2 separate regions of the Homo sapiens genome follow, and region 2 is linked to region 1. The links come from fine-mapping of genetic effects on gene expression. A gene starts in region 1. The other region holds a variant in brackets. All regions are shown on one strand. Distances are between the middles of the regions.

Region 1 (9,804 bases):
AAACTCACACTGAAGTGTATGTAACTGACTTCTATGTTCACGCAAAAGTATTTGCACTTTAATATGTGTTAAACCAAAAAGATGAATGAATAATGGTAGCATTGTAAACATCAGCCGAGATCTTCCAGGGAAGATTTTCTCAGAAGGCCAAGGGCAAGAACGATTCTCAGAAACTTTTTCTTTCTTGATCCCTAGTCATCCCTTGACTTTGCCACCTGAACTCCAAATCCATCACCATTCCCTTACCCAGAGGTGACCATTATCCTTCCAAACCTGTTTCTATCCATTTACATATGTATTTATATAACATCTAGAAATATAAATTTAGCTCATTGTGTGAGTTTTATCTAAAGGCCCTCACCTTACATTCTAGAAATTGCTTTTTTTTTTCACTCAACAGTATATTTGGAATTCTTTTCTGTAACAATTCCTAAAGACTGACCTTTTTTTTTTTTTTATGAACTGCTACACAGCACTTTAAAATACTGTGTCTCAAGCATTCAAATCATCTAGGAATCTTGTTAACATGCAGATGCTGATTCTATAACTCTAGGGTAAGCCCTGAGGTTCTGCATTTCTAAAAAGCTCCCAGATGTTATTGACATTGCTGGTCAACAGATCACACATTTAGTAGCAAAGATGTACAGTACGGGTGGAATAGTGTGCTGGGGCCAACTTGGACAAGCTCATGAGAACTGATTGTCAAATTTCCAGGAATTTGGTGAGCTTGTTGTTAAACACAGCAATCATTAAAAAAAACTAAATTATATACACTTACAATTAAATAAATTATATTACAGATAATGAAAACCAAAAATCCATCACCTTTCCAAACATTTTACTGCCTTCTTAAATCTATGCTGTTGATGTTATTTCTATCCATTGTGTCTGCATGGTGGAAATCTACATAATGGCATGCTTCCGCACAGCTCTTCCCAACTCCCTTCAGTGACATCATCTCGACAGCTTGAAATCGGCCACGGGGAACATTTACACCACAGAAATTTGGGTATAAAGGTCTGTGCAAACATACCCCCAAAGTTCAGGGAAGCTGAAAAGCCGACGAAAGAGGCTGACATATACAGTCTCTCAGAAAGAAACATTTCATAGGGACTTATGAATAGAGGCCATAGTTTCAGAGATGAAATGGTGGATTACCCTGCAAACCCAGGGCTTACATACCATAGGGAAACAATGTGTCAAACAATTGAAGTTGACCCCTCAGGCAAAGTCATGAATGCTATGTGAATCTGTCTAAGCGCAGGATTTATGGTAATAGTAGGTAAAGTAGAAAACTTAGAGTCATTCCTGGAACAGGTTGTTGAAAAGTCAACATGGCAGATTAGCTTCCCAGATGGAGTTGCTTTAGCCTCCAGAAAATGCTTGCATTACCCCAAGCCTTCTCCAACACTTGATATTACCCATCTTTTCCATTTTTGTTAATCTGCTCAATAAAAAGAAAAAGTATCTCATTTTTATTATTTATTAATTTTTTTTTTGAGTTGGAGTCTCGCACTTGTTGCCTGGGCTGGAGTGCAATGGCACGATCTCGGCTCACTGCAACCTCTGCCTCCCGGGTTCAAGCAGTTCTCCTGCCTCAGTCTCCTGAGTAGCTGGGATTACAAGTGCACACCACCATGTCCAGCTAATTTTTTGTATTTTTAGCCAGGCTAGTCTCAAACTCCTGACCTCGTGATCCACCCGCCTTTGCCTCCCAAAGTGCTGGGATTACAGGCATGAGCCACCACGCCCAACTGTTATCTCATTTTTAACTTGCATTTTCCTGTTTAAAGTGAGATTAGGTGTCTCATATGTTCATGACTAGAAATTTAACAATATTTCTTGCTCTTGTAAATATAGCCCTTTTACTTTTTTCTTTTTTACCCAAACCAAAAATGGTCAATAAGAACCTTTTTACTTTTATATTTTCTAGGTGATTATTGTACAAGAAAGTCAGTGTTTTTTAAATTAGGCTACCCTTCCTACCAGTTCTAATAATAGCTTGATCGTTTATTTTCTTGGGGATTCTAGATAATCATATAATCTATAAATAATGACCAATTTTACTTTTGCACATATAGAATTGTTAATTTTGTTTTGTGGTACTGGCTCTGACTACAGCTCCACATTGTCTAGCAGCAGTAATAGCTCATCAATGTCTCACTTCTGATTTGAATAGGAACACTTCTGTATTTCCCTCCCAAAATGCTGGGATGACAGGCGTGAGCCACCACTCCCGGCTCACTTTCTAAGTTATGCATTTTGGTGATGTTTGAATCTCTTACTCAAGCATGTACTCTTTTCTGTGATCAGAAAGAACATTAAAGGTGGTTCCTTATTCAGGTTGTCTCCTTCCCTTATACATTGTAGCCTTGTTTCGGCCCTTTCACTGTCCTCCTTGAATGTGTCCCCTCCCCAGGAGGTAGAGGACAAGAATGCTCTCTCCATGTCCTGCTCAGCATTGAGCTTTATACATAATTTTATTTATTTATTTATTGAGACAGAATCTCACTCTGTCGCCCAGGCTGGAGTGCAGTGGCACGATCTCAGCTCACTGCAACCTCCACCTCCCGGGTTCAAGCGATTCTCTTGCCTCAGCCTCCCAAGTAGCTGCTGGGATTACAGGCACGTGCCACTACACCCGGCTAATTTTTGTATTTTTTGTAGAGACGGGGTTTCACCATGTTGGTCAGACTGGTCACGAACTCCTGACCTCAAGTGATCTACCCGCCTCGGCCTCCCAAAGTGCTGGGATTACAGGCGTGAGCCACTGCGCCAGGCCCATAATGGTATTTCAACAAACGGTTAGGGAATGCCATGAATTTAAGCCAGCACCTAGTGGGTGAATTCTTGAAAACTCCCCTGCCATATCTACTAGTTTGAAGTGAGGGCTGCAGGACCTTTCCAGCCTCTCCCCATCCCACCCTGTCACTCCCCACCCCAGGTATATAAACGGCAGGTTGCTCCATAAACCTGTGATCTCTGGAATTTTGTTTGAACCCCTGGTAGCTGGGCCCTGTTTTGGATCTAGAGGCCACCAAGAGTCCTGATCAGTTCCTGCAGCTAGGAAGGTGCATGGGGTTTAAACGTGCTACTCACTACTCCTGACATGGGAATACTGGAACTGCCAATAATGTGGAATTTGTTTTTCTGTTGTTTTTAACAAATGGAAAGGGCACAGATATCAGAGTCAAATCCCAGATCCACCCAAACAGCTATGTGATCTTGGGCAAGTCAACTTCTGTGTCCCTTGTGGACCTCCCGTGTAACATAACACTTACCAAAGCGCATAGAAAAAGGTCCAGAAAAGATCTGAGAGAAGGCTGTAGGGTTGTTCCAGGCCTCTGCAATCAAACTGATGGAGTTCAAACCCCACCTGTGCCGTTTATTACCTCGACGGATCACTAGTCTCCGTATCTCAGCTTTCTCTGTTCATGCATAAACTGGGGACAGTAAGAGTACATAGTTGATGGGGCAGTTGTGAAGATTAAACGAGGTAACAGGCCAATCTTTATCATAAAGCTAAAGCTCACCGTGAGCGCCCCATGGACATTAGCCTTATTGCTTTTATTGTCACAAAGGTGGCTGTGGCGAGAGACAGCACTTTGTACCGTACCCGTCGGACCCGGTGAGCTGGAGGGGCGAGCTTTTTATTGGCCTCGAGGCCCGGGGCACGGGGAGGCGGGCCGTCCGCGGCTGTCCTAGCACCTCCGCGGCAGCAGAGGGCCCTGGCGGCGGCTGCGGGTCGCGCGGCGTGGGTGACGGGGGTGCAGGGCGGGGCCTAACGAGCAGCCCCCGCAGGGGCGGAGACGAGGGCGGGCCGGAGGCGGAGGCGCGGCCTGGAGAGGGATGGGGCGGAAGCGGGGCGGGCGGTGCAGCCTAGCGAGGGGCGGGGCGGACGAGGAAGCGTGACGAGCGGCGGGGCGGGTGGAGCAGCCTGGCGAGGAGCGGGGCGGGGTGGGCGGCACGGCCTGACAAGGGGCGGGGAGCGCAAGGAGGCCTGACGAAGGGCGGGGCGGAGCAAGGGCGGGGGCAGGGCGAGTAGTGGGGTACAGCGAGGGCCGGAGCGGATGGGGGAAACCTGGTGAGGGGCGGGACAAAGCGGGGAGGGCGGTGCAGCCTGGCGAGAGGCGGGGCGGACGAGGAAGCTTGACGAGGGGCGGGGCGGGCGGTGCAGCCCTGCGAGGGGCAGGGCGGGCGGTGCTTCCTGGCGAGGGGCGGGGCGGGGCGGGCGGTGCGGCCAAGCTAGGGGCGGGGCAAGGGCGGGGCAAGGCGGGTGGTGGTGCCCAGCGAGGGGCGGAGCGGACAGGGTAAGCCCGCCGAGGGGCGGGGCTGACCGAGGTGGGCGGGGCGGATGCCGAGGGGCGGGGAGAGGTGGGCGGGGAGGCCAAACATGGGGCGGGGCGGCGCGGCCGGGGAAGCGTGATGAAGGCCTACGAGTGCGGCGCGGCCTGAAGGGGCACGCGGGGGACCTGCAAAGCTAGTGAGGGGCGGGGCAGGCGGCGCGGTGGGGGCGGGCCGAGCCCGGAGGCCAGATGAGCGGACACAGCCCCACGCGCGGGGCCATGCAGGTAAGTGGCTCCCGACGGCCCCACTTGAATTTCGATCCCAGACCGGGTCCGGCGCCCTCCGGGGCCCAAGCTTAGCGCGGTGCTGCAGTGGGGCCGCCTGACCCAAAGCGAAACCGAAAGCCCCGCGGAGGGTGACCTGACGACTTTCCCGGGACTGGAAGGGGGAGTCCTGCGAGAGACTAGGTGGGTGCGAGAGAGGAGTCAGGGTGCTCCTTGGGGTACAGGGCTTTGGCTCCGGGCTGGGTACGCGCACGTGATGCAGGCCGCCTCAGAGTATGGGGCCCGCTTGGGATCCCGGAGTTTGGGAGCAGAACAGGATTTCCTAGCTGGGCAGGGACATGGGGGCGGGACTTAGGGAGTCGGGCTAAAGTTCGGATTAAGGGGCGGGCCTGGCTCATGATCCTGGGCCGGCGGGCTGAAGCTTTCAACGGAGTTTCAGCCCTGGGTTTGGGTCTCTCGGTGGGGACGGGCGGAAGCAGAGGTCTGTGCCTTAGAGTGGTCACTTCTGGGGGTGGGGATGGGAGAATCCTCGGAACCTGGGTGAAAGGTCAGGGGTCCCAGACCTTGTAAAAGTCTGAGCATCCCCCTCCCCTAGGTGGCCATGAACGGTAAGGCCCGCAAAGAGGCGGTGCAGACTGCGGCTAAGGAACTCCTCAAGTTCGTGAACCGGAGTCCCTCTCCTTTCCATGGTAAGCGGTGGCCAGGGCAAGGGAGGAGGGTGGAGGCTGATGCGCCCTTCACCAGCTTCCATCGCTGTGAGAGGGTGCTTTTCCCACAGCTGTGGCTGAATGCCGCAACCGCCTTCTCCAGGCTGGCTTCAGTGAACTCAAGGAGACTGAGAAATGGAATATTAAGCCCGAGAGCAAGGTACTGGGGGTGGGGTGGGGGTGGAAAGGCAGGTCCCTAGGCTGGTCTCCAAGCCCTGTGTGCCAGCTGAGTAATGCAACTCACACCCCTGTCTTTCCTCCCCTTCTCCTCAGTACTTCATGACCAGGAACTCCTCCACCATCATAGCTTTTGCTGTAGGGGGCCAGTACGTTCCTGGCAATGGCTTCAGCCTCATCGGGGCCCACACGGACAGCCCCTGCCTCCGGGTAAGGAACTCGGACGGTGTTGGGGTGGGAGGAGATGTCAGAGGGAGTACAGGGCAAAAGAGAACTAGGAGGTACAAACTGGGGCCTCTATCCCCTGGAGTAAGGGAGAAGGTAAACTTGTTGGCCCCTTCCTTCACACCTTGAGCCTTTCATGTGACACTAATATTCGCTGTCTGTTACTTATGAGTAGCCAAAGTCTCATCTCCACATATCGTCATGAAGCCTTCTCTGACTTCTCCATCTTTACACTCAGGTGAAACGTCGGTCTCGCCGCAGCCAGGTGGGCTTCCAGCAAGTCGGTGTGGAGACCTATGGTGGTGGGATCTGGAGCACCTGGTTTGACCGTGACCTGACTCTGGCTGGACGCGTCATTGTCAAGGTGGGAACCGAGGTTGGGGATGGCGGAGCCTCCTCAGAAGACTGACTGCCACACTCCTCAGGGTACCCGTGGGGAAGAGGGGTGGGGGCAGTCTGGTCAGAGGACCACCCTGCTTAGTCTGAGTGAAGTAAAGACTGACCACTGGGGTAGGAGGCACCCTGGGCTGACCTGGCCTGGCTGGCTGCAGTGCCCTACCTCAGGTCGGCTGGAGCAGCAGCTGGTGCACGTGGAGCGGCCCATTCTTCGCATCCCACACCTGGCCATCCATCTGCAGCGAAATATCAACGAGAACTTTGGGCCCAACACAGAGATGCATCTGTGAGACTGGGGCAGGGCTGCGGTGGCTGGGAGGGATGGAGAATGGTACCAGGTGATTATTACCTAATGGTAGCCATTAGGTCACATTTTACTCTTGGGACCCAGTTAATTTCTAAGGGTCCTCACAGCCTTGTGATTTGGGGAGTGGGCTGGGAATTGAAGGGCAGAGGCAGTTGCCCATCAGGAGGCACCTGAACTTATGGATGCCGCACTCAGCTGTGCCCTCCTCGCAATCCCCCCACAACCCACGTCTCCCCACAGAGTCCCCATTCTTGCCACAGCCATCCAGGAGGAGCTGGAGAAGGGGACTCCTGAGCCAGGGCCTCTCAATGCTGTGGTAAGAGAGTCTCCTGATCATGGGGAGGGCGGCAGAGTCCCCTGAGAAGTGGGGAGGAGAGGAGGAATGGACTCTTCCCAGCATCTTTCTGCTCTTCAGGATGAGCGGCACCATTCGGTCCTCATGTCCCTGCTCTGTGCCCATCTGGGGCTGAGCCCCAAGGACATAGTGGAGATGGAGCTCTGCCTTGCAGACACCCAGCCTGCGGTGAGGACTGGCTGTAGGAACCTGTGGGTGAAGGGCCTCCAGGATCCTGGCCACCCCTAGCCCGTCCTGCTGAAGCACCCATCACCTCCACCAAGCCCTCAGTAACTCTCATCCCCGTTTTTCCCAGTAGACACATCCCCCACTGCTTCTAGGGCGGTGGTTCTCAAAAAGACAAGTTCCCTACCCCAGACCTGCCCACTAGGACTATCTGGGAATTGGCCCTTTTTACAGATTCCCAAAGAGTTTCTTCTACAGGTGGGCCCTGTCTGCTTTGACCCACACTGACACTGAACTGCTTAGGGAAAGAGGCCTGGATGTGGCCATCTGTTCTCTGTCTCCCGGTTGCTGATGGTCAGAGATTGCTAAATCTTTGGATGCTGTGTCCTGCTTGAACACGTACTAAGTTTCTGTTTTTTGGCTGGTTTCCTCTGTTTACTTCTTTGGCCTTTTTGATGACAATTCAGCCCTTCCTTTTCTTGACCCACAGGAAGAGGTCAAGAGCTATTGGCCTCCACCCTTTTGTTCCTCAGCACCAACCCAGCCCCCTTCTCCAATCTCTGCTTGGTCCTGCCTAGCAAGGAATCCCAGCACTTTGGGAGGCTGAGGCGGGGGGAATCACATGAGGTCAGGAGTTCGAGACTAGCCTGACCACCATGGTGAAACCCTGTCTCTAATAAAAATACAAAAATTAGCTGGGCCTGGTGGTGCATGCCTGTAATCCCAGCTACTCAGGAGGCTGAGGCACGAGAATCCTTTGAACCCGGGAGGCGGAAGTTGCAGTGAGCCGAGATCGAGCCATTGCACTTCAGACTGGGCGACAAGAGCGAACCTTCATCTCAAAAAAAAGAAAAAACAAAATAGTGCCCTAAGCCAGGGGTCAGGGAGAGGTTGCGCAAGAAACCAAGGAGACCCTTGGGAGCAAAAGAAAGGTGAGTGGGGGTGGAGGGTTGAAGGTCGGGCTGACTGTCTTACCTCTCTAGGTCTTGGGTGGTGCCTATGATGAGTTCATCTTTGCTCCTCGGCTGGACAATCTGCACAGCTGCTTCTGTGCCCTGCAGGTGAGGAGCCGGGGCGCCCCAGGCAGCACATAACCACCAGCAGAGGTGGTATGTTTGGGGTCGGGGGAGCTGCCTAAAGCCCCAGCAGGTTGTGAGAGAGGGCCATTGTCTACCCGCTCAGTCTGCTGGTGCTGGATGGACCAGGAGGGGGCCCTAAATGTTGCAGCCTCAGCATCGCCACCTTTGGTCTCTGCCCTTGCACTATCAGGGTGTTGAGGCAAGAAGAAGGAGGAGAAGTTGTTTCAGGCACCATGGTCTCTTGTCCTAGCCTTGCTCCTGCTGCTTTTCCTGAAGTTAACAACCTCTGCCTCAGGGAAAGGCTTTATCATCCACAAGGCAGTATCATCCACCTCCTTCTGCTTCCTACGCCACTCCCCAGGCTTAAGACCCCAGCCTTCTCCCTGTTTCTTGGGATCTCAGTCAGGTAGCCTCTCTTCCTAGTCACCTTGATATTCCCCACCTTCTCTCCACCCTAGTCAGTTCCCTTTCTTTCTCTCCTCTTGCCCTTGATCTCCCTCTGCCTTTTTCTGCCTTTCCTTCCCTGTAATCCTGTGGCTGGAGATAGGCTTTGGGCTGTAATTGAGACCAGAGCTGGACCTGGGACCTGCATCTACTTCTGCAGGCAACCAGCCAGTCATGTCACCTTGATGGAGTCTGTCACCTCTTTGAACCTCAGTCTTTTCCCTGAGGCCAATCAGTTTATGTGATGTGTGTAGCCTTTTGGCTTTCCAGGACTCTCAGCTCTTCCTCTCTGTCCTCCACATCTTCTACTGCCTTTTGCATGGGAAGGTAGAGAACAACACCCAAAGGATGGTGTCTCCTGTCCCAGTTGAAAAGGTTTCTACCTAGCTATTGATCTGGCCAAAAAAAAAAAGAAAGAAAGAAAAAAAGAGAAAAAAAAGGTCCTCACCACACCTTAAAGGTTTCTACCTATGTAGCTATTTATTTGGCAAGAAAAAAAAGGTCCCCACCACACCCTCTGCCAGGCAGTGCCCTAATTGATAAAAGTCATGGCCATGGAAGGCAGACAGGGGAATGTGCACACCCAAGGTGCTGGTGGATGGGGGAGCGTGCACACCCAAGGTGCTGGTGGGCTGAGTTCCAGCAGAAGCAGGTTGGAGATGATGCTCTCATTTCCTTCCCTGAACCAGGCCTTGATAGATTCCTGTGCAGGCCCTGGCTCCCTGGCCACAGAGCCTCACGTGCGCATGGTCACACTCTATGACAACGAAGAGGTACGTGGAGGGTTCTGGGGAGGGTCACCTCTGCGGAGTCTTCCACAGCCAACTTGTTGTGCCAGGCATCCACCGTGAGCCAGGGCTCTTCTGGGGGCCCCAAGACAGGGGAGATGCTGCCTGTGCCTCCTTAGCACTTGGTGTCTCCTCTGACTCAACATAGATCTGCTTATTCGAGGGTGACCGTCTCTCCTGTATCTCTCTTTGTGCCACATGGTGAGCTTCTTCCTTTAGGACAGGGACTCTACCCAGCCCATCCTCGTAGCCCCAGGGCTCAGCACAGAGTAGGTCCTCATGATGCCTGCGTGTGTGAGGCTGCAGTCTCAGCTGCATAACAGAGCTTGAACAGCTAGTGCTCTCTCATGTAACAACCCAGGTCAGAGTTAGCAGTTTAGGAGGGGTCCCTGCCGTCCTGAACACATGACTTCCATTTCAGGATTCAGGGTGGCCGTTCCAGCTCTGGCCATCATGTCTACACTGAGTTAGTAGGAAGGGAAGAGAGGGCAAAGGGGCAGTAGACACCCCCTGGCTTTAAGGGCATGATCCAGAAGTGACATTCATCACTGCTTACATTCCACAGAACTTAGCTGCAGGGGAGCCTGGAA
Region 2 (9,174 bases), 43 kb before region 1:
GGAGGGGAAGAAGAGGAACGGTCCTGGTGAGATGCCTGAGAGGTGGATGGGGAGGCAGGCCCAAGTGGAGGTGAGCAGACAGCTCCGAAGAGGGACCATGGCCTCCCCCAGCGCCTCCATTACAGCTGGCGAACAGTAAGACCAGGAGCCTGGGAGTCAGGTGGATTGGGGCCTCCACTGCGCCCTGCCCTTACTTGCTGGGTGACACCAAACCTCTCTCAACCTCCAAGTCCTCATCTGTAAGAATGGGTGGTGGAATAGGGTTGCAATAGGCAGAAAAGAGTGGGCAGGACATTCCAGGCAGAGGGAACGGCATGAACAAAATGAGCCTGATGAAAACAAAGGCGTCCTGGGAATTAGAGAGGTTTGGAGGGATTGAAGCGTAGTGGGTGGGGTGAGTGGAAGAAGGGAGGTGGGGCCTGGAGAAGGCTTTGTTTGCTAAGGCTTTGGTTTCTCTACCCTGAAAGCAGGGGGCGCCACTACACAGCTTTAAGCGGCAGAAAAAACACGGTGGGAGCTGTGTCTTAGGAGGATCCTCTTGGCGGCCACAAAGTGGAGGATGGATAGAAATGACGGCCAGTTCAAGTAAAGGCCAGATTCCCAGCCTCCTTGCCCCACACTGGTTCAGCAGCTGAGCTGGGAGGAATCTGCACATTTAACAAATGACTCAACTGATTCTGATGTGCCTAAGTGTTGCACGTTGAGAAACATCAAGAGTCCAGATGAGACCTTTGTGATAGAACAGTTCTGTATCTTGGCTGGGCGCGGTGGCTAACACCTGTAATTCCAGCACTTTGGGAGGCCGAGGTGGGTGGATCACTTGAACTCAGGAATTCAACACCAGCCTGGCCAACATGGTGAAACCTGTCTCTACTAAAAATACAAAAAATTAGCCAGGTGTAGTGGCTCATGCCTGTAGTCCCAGCTACTCAGGAGGCTGAGGCAGGAGAATCGCTTGAACCTGGGAGGTGGAGGTTGCAGTGAGCCTAGATGGCACCACTGCACTGCAGCCTGGGCAACAGAGTGAGACTCTGTCTCAAAAAACAAAACAAAACAAAAACAGAACAGTTCTGTATCTTGACAGTGGTAATGGTGGTGGTTATGTGGATCTACACAAGTGATAAAGTTGCATAGAACTAAATGTGCATTTGCACTTGTACGCAACACTAACAGTACATGTAACACTGGTAAAACTTGCAGAAGGTAGGTGGATTATACCAATGCCCCTTTCCTGGTTGTGATGCTGTACTATAGTCATACAAGATGTTACCCTAGGAGGAAACCAAGTGAAGGTAATTCAGGATCTCTCTGCATTATTTCTTATAATTGCCTGTGAATCTACAGTTATCATAAAGTAAAAAATTTTTTAAGAAGTCCAAGTAGGAGACCCAGGCCTGACCTTGAGCCCTGAGGGATGAAACCCAGGAAGGGCTGAGAGGAGCCATGAGTATTCAGAGGCAGAGAATGTTACTCTTACCCTTGCCTCCTCTTCCCCATCCTCATTCTGGGATACTGAAGTCAAAGAGAAAGAGAGAGAGCGCGAGAGACAGTGTGTAAAAGGTATAGGAGGAACCATTTAAACACTGAATTACATCCATAGAGGTTAAGAACCTTGAGGAATAATTTTTTTTACAGTTTGCATACATTAAAGTTTTTTTTTTTTTTGAGACGGAGTTTCACTCTTGTTGCCCAGGCCGGAGTGCAATGGTGTGATCTCGGCTCACCACAACCTCCTCCTCCCGGGTTCGAGCAATTCTCCTGCCTCAGCCTCCCGAGTAGCTGGGATTACAGGCATGCACCACCACACCCAGCTAATTTTGTATTTTTAGTAGAGACGGGGTTTCTCCATTTTGGTCGGGCTGGTCTCGAACTCCCGACCTCAGGTGATCTGCCTGCCTCAGCCTCCTAAAGCACTGGGATTACAGGTGTGAGCCACCGTGCCTGGCCTAAAGTTTATTTTTTTATGAGGTGCAGTTCTCTGGGTTTTGACAAATGCATAGAATCATGTATCTGCCACTCCAGGACCATACAGAGCAAACAATTCCATCACCCCAAATACTAGCTCATGTACCCCCTTCGGAGTCATAGACTCTACCATAGACCCCCTCCACCAACCTCTGGCAACCACTGATGATGAATCGAATTCTAAAGTGTAAATTGAATTCTAGAAGGTGACAATATGGGGGAAGTCATTGCAAACAGATGGTACATCAAGAAAAAAGGAATAGAGAGTATTTCGAAAAACAAATAACCCAAAGCCACCCAACACTGTGCCTCTAAATGTGTGTGGAATGCAGTGGGTAGACTGTAAATGTTGGCTGGTTAGTAAGTTGGTTGAATAAATGAACGATGCGATCTCAAGCAAGTTACCTAGCATCTCTAAGCCTCGGTTTCCTCATCTATAGAATGGAGGTAGCACAACTCAGGGTTTTAATTATTTATTCATCCATAATTTTTTTATTTATTCATCCACAAATATTTTTGAGTTTCTACTATGTACTGGCACTGTGCTAGGGACTAGGGATATAGCAGTGAACAGACAAAGATTTCTGCTCCCATGCTGCTTTTACTTGAGAAGAGAGATGAACAACAAATACAAAGAAATAGGCTGCGCACGGTGGCTCACGCCTGTAATCCCAGCACTTTGGGAGGCTGAGGCAGGAGGATCACCTGAGGTCAGAAGTTCAAGACCAGCCTGGCCAACATGGTGAAACCTCATCTCTACTAAAAATACAAAAATTAGCCAGGCCTGGTGGCACACACCTGTAATCTCAGCTACTTGGGAGGCTAAAGCAGGAGAATTGCTTGAACCCGGGTGGCAGAGGTTGCAGTGAGCCGAGATGGCACCACTGCACTCCAACCTGGGCAACAGAGTGAGACTCCATCTCAATAAGAAAGAAAGATAAGAAAGAGAAAGGAAGGAAGGAAGGAAGGAAGGAAGGAAGGAAGGAAGGAAGGAAGGAAGGAAGGAAGGAAAAGAAAGAACCTGTAAAGATTGTTACAAGGAGGTAAGCACTGTGGACAAAGCTTAAGGCAAATGTGAGTGTGGTGGGAGATTGCACTTTCAAATAGGGTGTGGCTGGAGTTGGCCCCACTGGGAACATTTGAGCCAATCTTGAGTAAGAAAGCAAATGATGCAAATGTCTGGGGAGGGCTGCTTCTGGCAGAGGTGGGAATATGCCTGGTGGGCTCCAAGACGAAGGCCAGAGAGGATGGAGGGAGCAAGGGGAGAGTGGAAGGAAATGGGTCAGACAGGCAGCAGAAGCCAGATGGCCTAGAATTTTGCAGGCCATGGCGCTTTTGTTCCTGGTGAAATGAGAAGTCATCTTAGGGCTTTGAGCAGAAGAATTACATGATCTGACTTACGTTGTAGTAATGACATTAAATTATTATATTAAATATTCAAATGAAGATTAACTATTTAAAAGGGCCTGGCACAGAGCCTGGAACATGACTTGCCTTCTGCCTTCCTAGATCCATAATTGGGGCATTCGTTGATTTGCGTGCAGGAGTCTGTGGGCCTGGGTAGGGAGGGCACAAGTCCATGCAAGTCACTGGTGCCCTCTTCTGGGAGGAGCCCACACTAGCTGTGACAGCTGGAAGCCGTCAGGCTCTGGCCAGGCCAGGCCAGGCACTTGGGACAGCTGGCTGCAAGTCACTCGTCTGTCCCTCAGCATGGGCCCCACAGTGCCCTGCAGCCTGGCGCCTAGCTGGGTGTGTGTGCTGCCAGTCTGCCCTGTCTTGCGATCACAAGCCTCTGGTGTCATGGAAAGAGATCTGAGCTCCAGAGGCCAGGGAGCCTGGAGCCCAGTCCTCCTTTGCTACAGACTGCTGTGTGACCTTTGCAGGTCACCCTACCTCTCTGGAGGTGCCACTGGGCACTTCTTAAGCCATAATGATGTACCACATGCCTGGCACATGGGAAAAATCTCAGTAAGTGTTCATTGAATCAGTGAATAAAGTGGGGGCCATCAGCCCTTCCTGGTGAATATTTAATTTAGAGAAAAGTAAGTAAAAGTGCGCAGTAGGTATTCATTCATTAAGTATTTAAATATTTAATGAGTACCTACTATTCTTCCAGGCATTCTTCTGGGCACTTGGGATACAATAGTGAATAAAATGGATTAAAATTCTACCCTTAGGTAGCTGACGTTTTAGGTGTTAAATCGAAGGTTATTGAAGCATTTGCAGATGTGCCTTGGGTGAGCTTGTGGTGAGAGGAAGGAGGGAGGGGGTGAATGAGTAGAATAGGACAGGGGCCTCAAGGGACGGGGGTGAAAATATACCTGGAGTGGACAGACAGGCAGGAAAATGTCTGCTGATCCATCAGTCCTGGCATATGGTGCCTGCCTCCATGATCCCTTCCATTACACCCTGTCTGCTGGGGTCAGAGCTGGTCTGGGCCTGATCCTTTGGGTCCGGTGGGAAGCCGATCAGCATTCTATGAGCCCTGTTACTTCTTGATGTTCAGAGTCTTGAAGGTTAAGACCCCAGAGCCCAAGGAGCAGGAAGAGGCTTTGCCGTGGAGGTGTTTTTTTTTTTTTTTTTTTT[G/TG]AGACAGAGTCTCCCTCTGTTGCCCAGGCTGGAGTGCAGTGGCGCGATCTCGGCTCACTGCAAGCTCCGCCTCCCGGGTTCATGCCATTCTCCTGCCTCAGCCTCCTGAGTAGCTGGGACTACAGGCACCCACCACCACGCCCGGCTAATTTTTTTTTTTTTTTTTTTTTGTATTTTCAGTAGAGAGGGGTTTCACTGTGTTAGCCAGGCTGGTCTTGAACTCCTGACCTTGTGATCCACACGCCTCAGCCTCCCAAAGTGCTGGGATTACAGGTGTGAGCCACCGTGCCCCGCCCCTGTTGTTGGGTTTTTGTTTTGTTTTGTAGAGATCGGGTCTTGCAGTTTCCCAGGCTGGTCTCAAACTCCTGGGCTCAAGTGATCCTCCCACCTTGGCCTCCCAAAGTGCTGGGATTATAGATGTGAGCCACTGCAGCCGGTGGAAACCCAAATCTGTTTTGGTTTGTATTTGCCCATTCTCTGGGTTCCCTTGGTCACAGCTCAGCTCTTATGAAGAGAGGCAAAGATTAGAACCAGAATTTCTAGTTCCAGGCAGGCTGTGCTCAAAGAATCCTTCCCCACCTGGGGGATAGAGGGTGGCTCTGGGCCTTCTTTCTTCTCTGGGGACAAGTGGGTAGCAGTCACAGGAGACAGGTGTGCTGAGAAGGAAGAGCTTTATTTCAGAACTGTCCCCAGCTGGAAGGGGCCACCAAAGAAGCGGTGAGTTCTCGGGCTCTGGAGACATTCAGGCAGAGTTTGAGGAATGCTCATGAAGGATGTGGGGCAGGGCTGAGAAGGGGGTTTCTGCACCTCAAGGATCATTGCCTGGGAGCCTTCTGAGGTCTGACTCTGAGAGCCTGAGATTCCTACATTCCTTCCACCTTAGTGACTAGTCTATACCTAAGCATTTGGTGGGCTGGGGGGTGGGAGGGGAACTGCCTCCAAAACCTCCCCTAACCCATGTGTCCCTTTATCCTTTGTGGGACAGATAAGTGCACATAACTCATTCAGGGGAAAGAAGGATTCCAGAAACTACTCACAGATATACACACCCCCTCTAATCCACCTGAGCCCAGCCCTGTCCAGGTGTTTCCAACACAGAGAAGCTGGCTCAGACTCCAGGGCCCCCAACAGACTCAAGGATAAGAAGCCCCTTACCCATCCCTCCTCCTCCATCCCAGTACAAAGACATTGGAAATGGGACTTTCAATTTCATTTCCTGTGAGGGTCATTGTGGAGTTTCTCTACAGGTTGACTGGGGTAGTTCTGGGGCCTGTAGGGTTCACCCTATTTGAGGACTGAGGGGAATGAAATGACCATGAGTCACCAGTGGCAGAGGGAGGGGACATGGGGCTACACCCCAGGTCCTCCTGGGGCAAAGCTGAAGAATAAAACAGAGAAGGGGACTTCTTAGAGAGAGGGGTGACTTGTGAGCCAGGGCCACATTAAAGGAGGGGAAGAAAGAGACACCAGAGAGGCTTTTGGAAGTTTCTGGAAAAGTCAGTTTGGAAGGTCAGATTAAGGACCTTAAGACTAAAACCTCCTGAGGTTTATTTAACATACAAACTGTCTGAGCTTATTATCTTTGTGATCTCTACCCTCTTCCTGACTCCTTTAAAGGATAATCCCTGAAATCTCAGAGGAGAAACTTGAAGGCTGAGGCCTACATGGATCCATCGTTTCCTACATCTTTGATCCACTGGAATATTTTTAGAAGGAGTAAAAGAGAGACAGCCTTCACTCTGCCCCCTACCCCACCTCTTAGCTATCAAAGTGCTCCAAACCCTATACTGAATCATTAAGTTTTCCCCACAAATTCAAAATGCCTCCTTTAACATGTGTATGTCTCCTGTATGTGAGTCTTGTTCTAAACACACTATTTTGTTCATTAATATTTGTATATTTCCTCTTCATTAACAAATCTGTTAATTATCATAGCCTTCTAATATATTTTGATGTTCTTTCTATGATTTCCTAATTTTTTTCCTTTTTCTTTTTTTGAGACAGAGTCTCACTCTGTCACCCAGGCTGGAGTTAGTGGTACAATCTCAGCTCACTGAAGCCTCGACCTCCTGGGCTCAAGCTATCCTCCCACCACAGCCTCCCAAGTAGCTGGAACTACAGGCTCATACCACCATGCCAGGCTAATTTTTTATTTTTTGTAGAGTCAGGGTCTCGTTACATTGCCCAAGCTGGTCTCAAACTCCTGGGCTCAAGAGATCCTCCCACCTCAGCCTCCAAAAGTGCTGGGATTACAGGTGGAGTCACTGTGCCCAGCCTCCTAATTTTTTTCATACGTCTTACACTCCCCTCCCATCTTCTCCAATTCTCTTAAAATTTTTATTTGGTATTTTAATTGAGATTGCATGGCATTGAAATTATAGATGAATGGAAAATGAATTGACTTCTCTTCAGAGTATTGAACCTTCTTATCGAAGCACAGAACAGATCTTTCCATTTTTCCAAACATTATTTTTCCTGAATTGGCTCCTGTGTATAAAAATAGTATTGGAAGGAGTTAATAGAAAGAGGCCATTGGCTCACATCTGTAATCCCAACACTTTGGGAGGCTGAGGTAGCAGGAGGAGCAATTGAGCCCAGAAATTCAAGACCAGCCTCAGCAACACAGAAAGACCTTGTCTCTACAAAAAATAAAAAGCTAGCCAGGCATGGTGGTGTGAACCTGTGGTCCCAGCTACTTGGGAGGCTGAGGTGGGAGGATCGCTTGAGCTCAGGAAGTCCAGGCTGCAGTAAGCCGTGATCACACTGCTGCACTCCAGCCTGGGTGACACAGCAAGACTCCATCTCAAAAAGAAAAAAAGAGAGAGAGAAAAAAAAGGGGCTGTTGGCATCTTTGAAGAAGGGACTGGGGGAGCCCTACTTCAGAGCCAGTCAGTGGGGAGCAGCTACATCCTTCAAAAGGAATAGCAGGTGGTGTCCCCCAGCCTGGCTGACCTGAAGGTGTAGTAGAGAGCACAAGGGGTGCAGTCCTGGAACTGGGGCCTAACGAGAGGTATTTGTGGTTCCCCAACAAAAGCCCTGTCCAGCCCTCCCTGCCCCATACACTGCATACAGACATCAAGGCCAGGTGGCTCTGGGAACAGAAGTGGGCGCGAGGCCCTGGGGAAAGTCTGGCTGGGTAGAAGGTCAGTATAGTCCATCTCAGGGTGACAGGTTGTATCACAGGGCCCCAGGGGCCCCACAGGAGACCTGGCAGTCAAGACAACAGGGGCCAGCTTGGCTTGTGTGTGAATCTCTTTATTGTTTCTCTCCAGAGCCCCTGCAGCAGGGGAGGGGAGGGCGTGGGGAGGTGGGCGCCCCTCCCACCAGCCTGAGACCGCTCTCTGCCTCTCTCCTCTCCTCTCTTCTCCAGCATCTCACCCACTTTCTCTCCTTCTCAATCTCCTGCTCCCACCTCCAGCACCTTCGGGGATTCCCTCTTGTAGCCCCTGCTTTCTAAGTCCACCCTGGGCTGGGGAAAGGAAAGTAAGAGACCACGGGGACAATTTCAAGCCCCCCAGTCTCCACAGGGGCTAGTCCCCCTGGCTACCTGCCTGGCTTTCTCTCTCCTGGGCTAGGGGCTGGGGAGGTCTGCGGGGCTCAGTCCTGGCCCTGCAGTATCCCAACACCCTGCTCTGGGGCTGTCTCCAGAGCCAAAGGCTAGTGCCTGAGGTCACAGAGGTGGGAGGGACAGGGCCACCGCTCCCGCCTGGGCTCCATCCAGCACAAGAGCCAGGCTCACTCACTGCCAACAGCCAAGGCTCACAGCTGGGGTCCGCAGAGGTGGCCGGGGCATGCCCTGTGACCAGGCAGGGATGGGCTATGTCGCTGTTGGGGACCACGAGGGATGGCCAGTGAGGAGGGGTCAGAGGCTGTGAGGGGAGGACTGAGGCTGGGTGTGGTGTCCTGGGATGGAAGAAGGCTGGCTTCAGGGAGCAGTGAGGACAGGGGTGAGGACGGTCTCTGGTGGCAGAGGGTCTCTGTCTTTAGAGCACTTCATGCTGCTGCTGTGTGGCCTCACTGACGACCTGGGGAGGAAGAGAAGCCCAGTCCAACCATGTGCTAGCCAGAGAATGGAGCCTCAGCCCTGAGCCATCCCCACCCCAGGGCCGCAGGATCTCTCTTGCCCCACTAGCCAGGGACCTAGACCAGCACAGCTGGGTGGAAGACAGTCCCCCCAGACACATCCATAGCCCCCACCAAGGGTAAGGAGCCCAGACAGACCACTTACCTCCCCATCCCGTGTCTCGATGGTCTTGATCATCACCGTCTTCTTGGTATGGACCTCAGAACCCCTTTGCTCAGGGCTGGTTTCTGTAACAGGGTCCATCGCACACTCAGCCTGACCAAGTCCAGGCTGGGCTATACCAGGGGCTGGGAGTCCATCTGGGGCCACATTGGGCAGAGCCCTAGCAGACCCCAACCCCCCTCAAGACAGGCTTGTTACTTCTTCAAGACTTTAACACCTTTCCTTCAGCCCAGCACCCAGCAGGTGGTTCTGCAGTCCCCAGCGCCTGTCCCATAGTTTAGATGGTCTCAGGAGCCAACAGATTTGCTCCATGTGCAGGATGGTGCAGGAGGGTAGGGGACACCTGAGGCCCAGGCTGCACAGCACTGACATTCCCC

Evidence for each region. PIP is the estimated chance that this variant, and not a neighbour inherited with it, causes the effect.
Region 2: its variant is fine-mapped to the expression of DNPEP in prefrontal cortex (ROSMAP, PIP 0.95).

What each region holds. Positions count from the first base shown.
Region 1 is chr2:219,382,526-219,392,329 of GRCh38, reverse strand. DNPEP (aspartyl aminopeptidase) reads left to right here and starts at 4,418. Exons shown (of 15, transcript NM_012100.4): 1 at 4,418-4,571; 2 at 5,167-5,260; 3 at 5,350-5,438; 4 at 5,552-5,665; 5 at 5,919-6,044; 6 at 6,232-6,362; 7 at 6,624-6,699; 8 at 6,799-6,906; 9 at 7,887-7,964; 10 at 9,116-9,199. The coding sequence starts at 4,536. DNPEP-AS1 (DNPEP antisense RNA 1) reads right to left here and starts at 3,760. Exons shown (of 4, transcript NR_183823.1): 1 at 3,534-3,760; 2 at 3,282-3,443. RefSeq lists silencers at 3,617-3,766, 3,847-4,366, 4,387-4,626 and an enhancer at 4,891-5,737.
Region 2 is chr2:219,425,351-219,434,524 of GRCh38, reverse strand. DES (desmin) reads right to left here. Exons shown (of 9, transcript NM_001927.4): 8 at 8,780-8,862; 9 at 7,791-8,576. The coding sequence ends at 8,535. Among named protein-coding and RNA genes, the nearest start is that of SPEG, 4.9 kb to the left of the region's middle. RefSeq lists an enhancer at 2,286-5,375. The variant G/TG (reference allele first, on the strand shown) is at 4,552.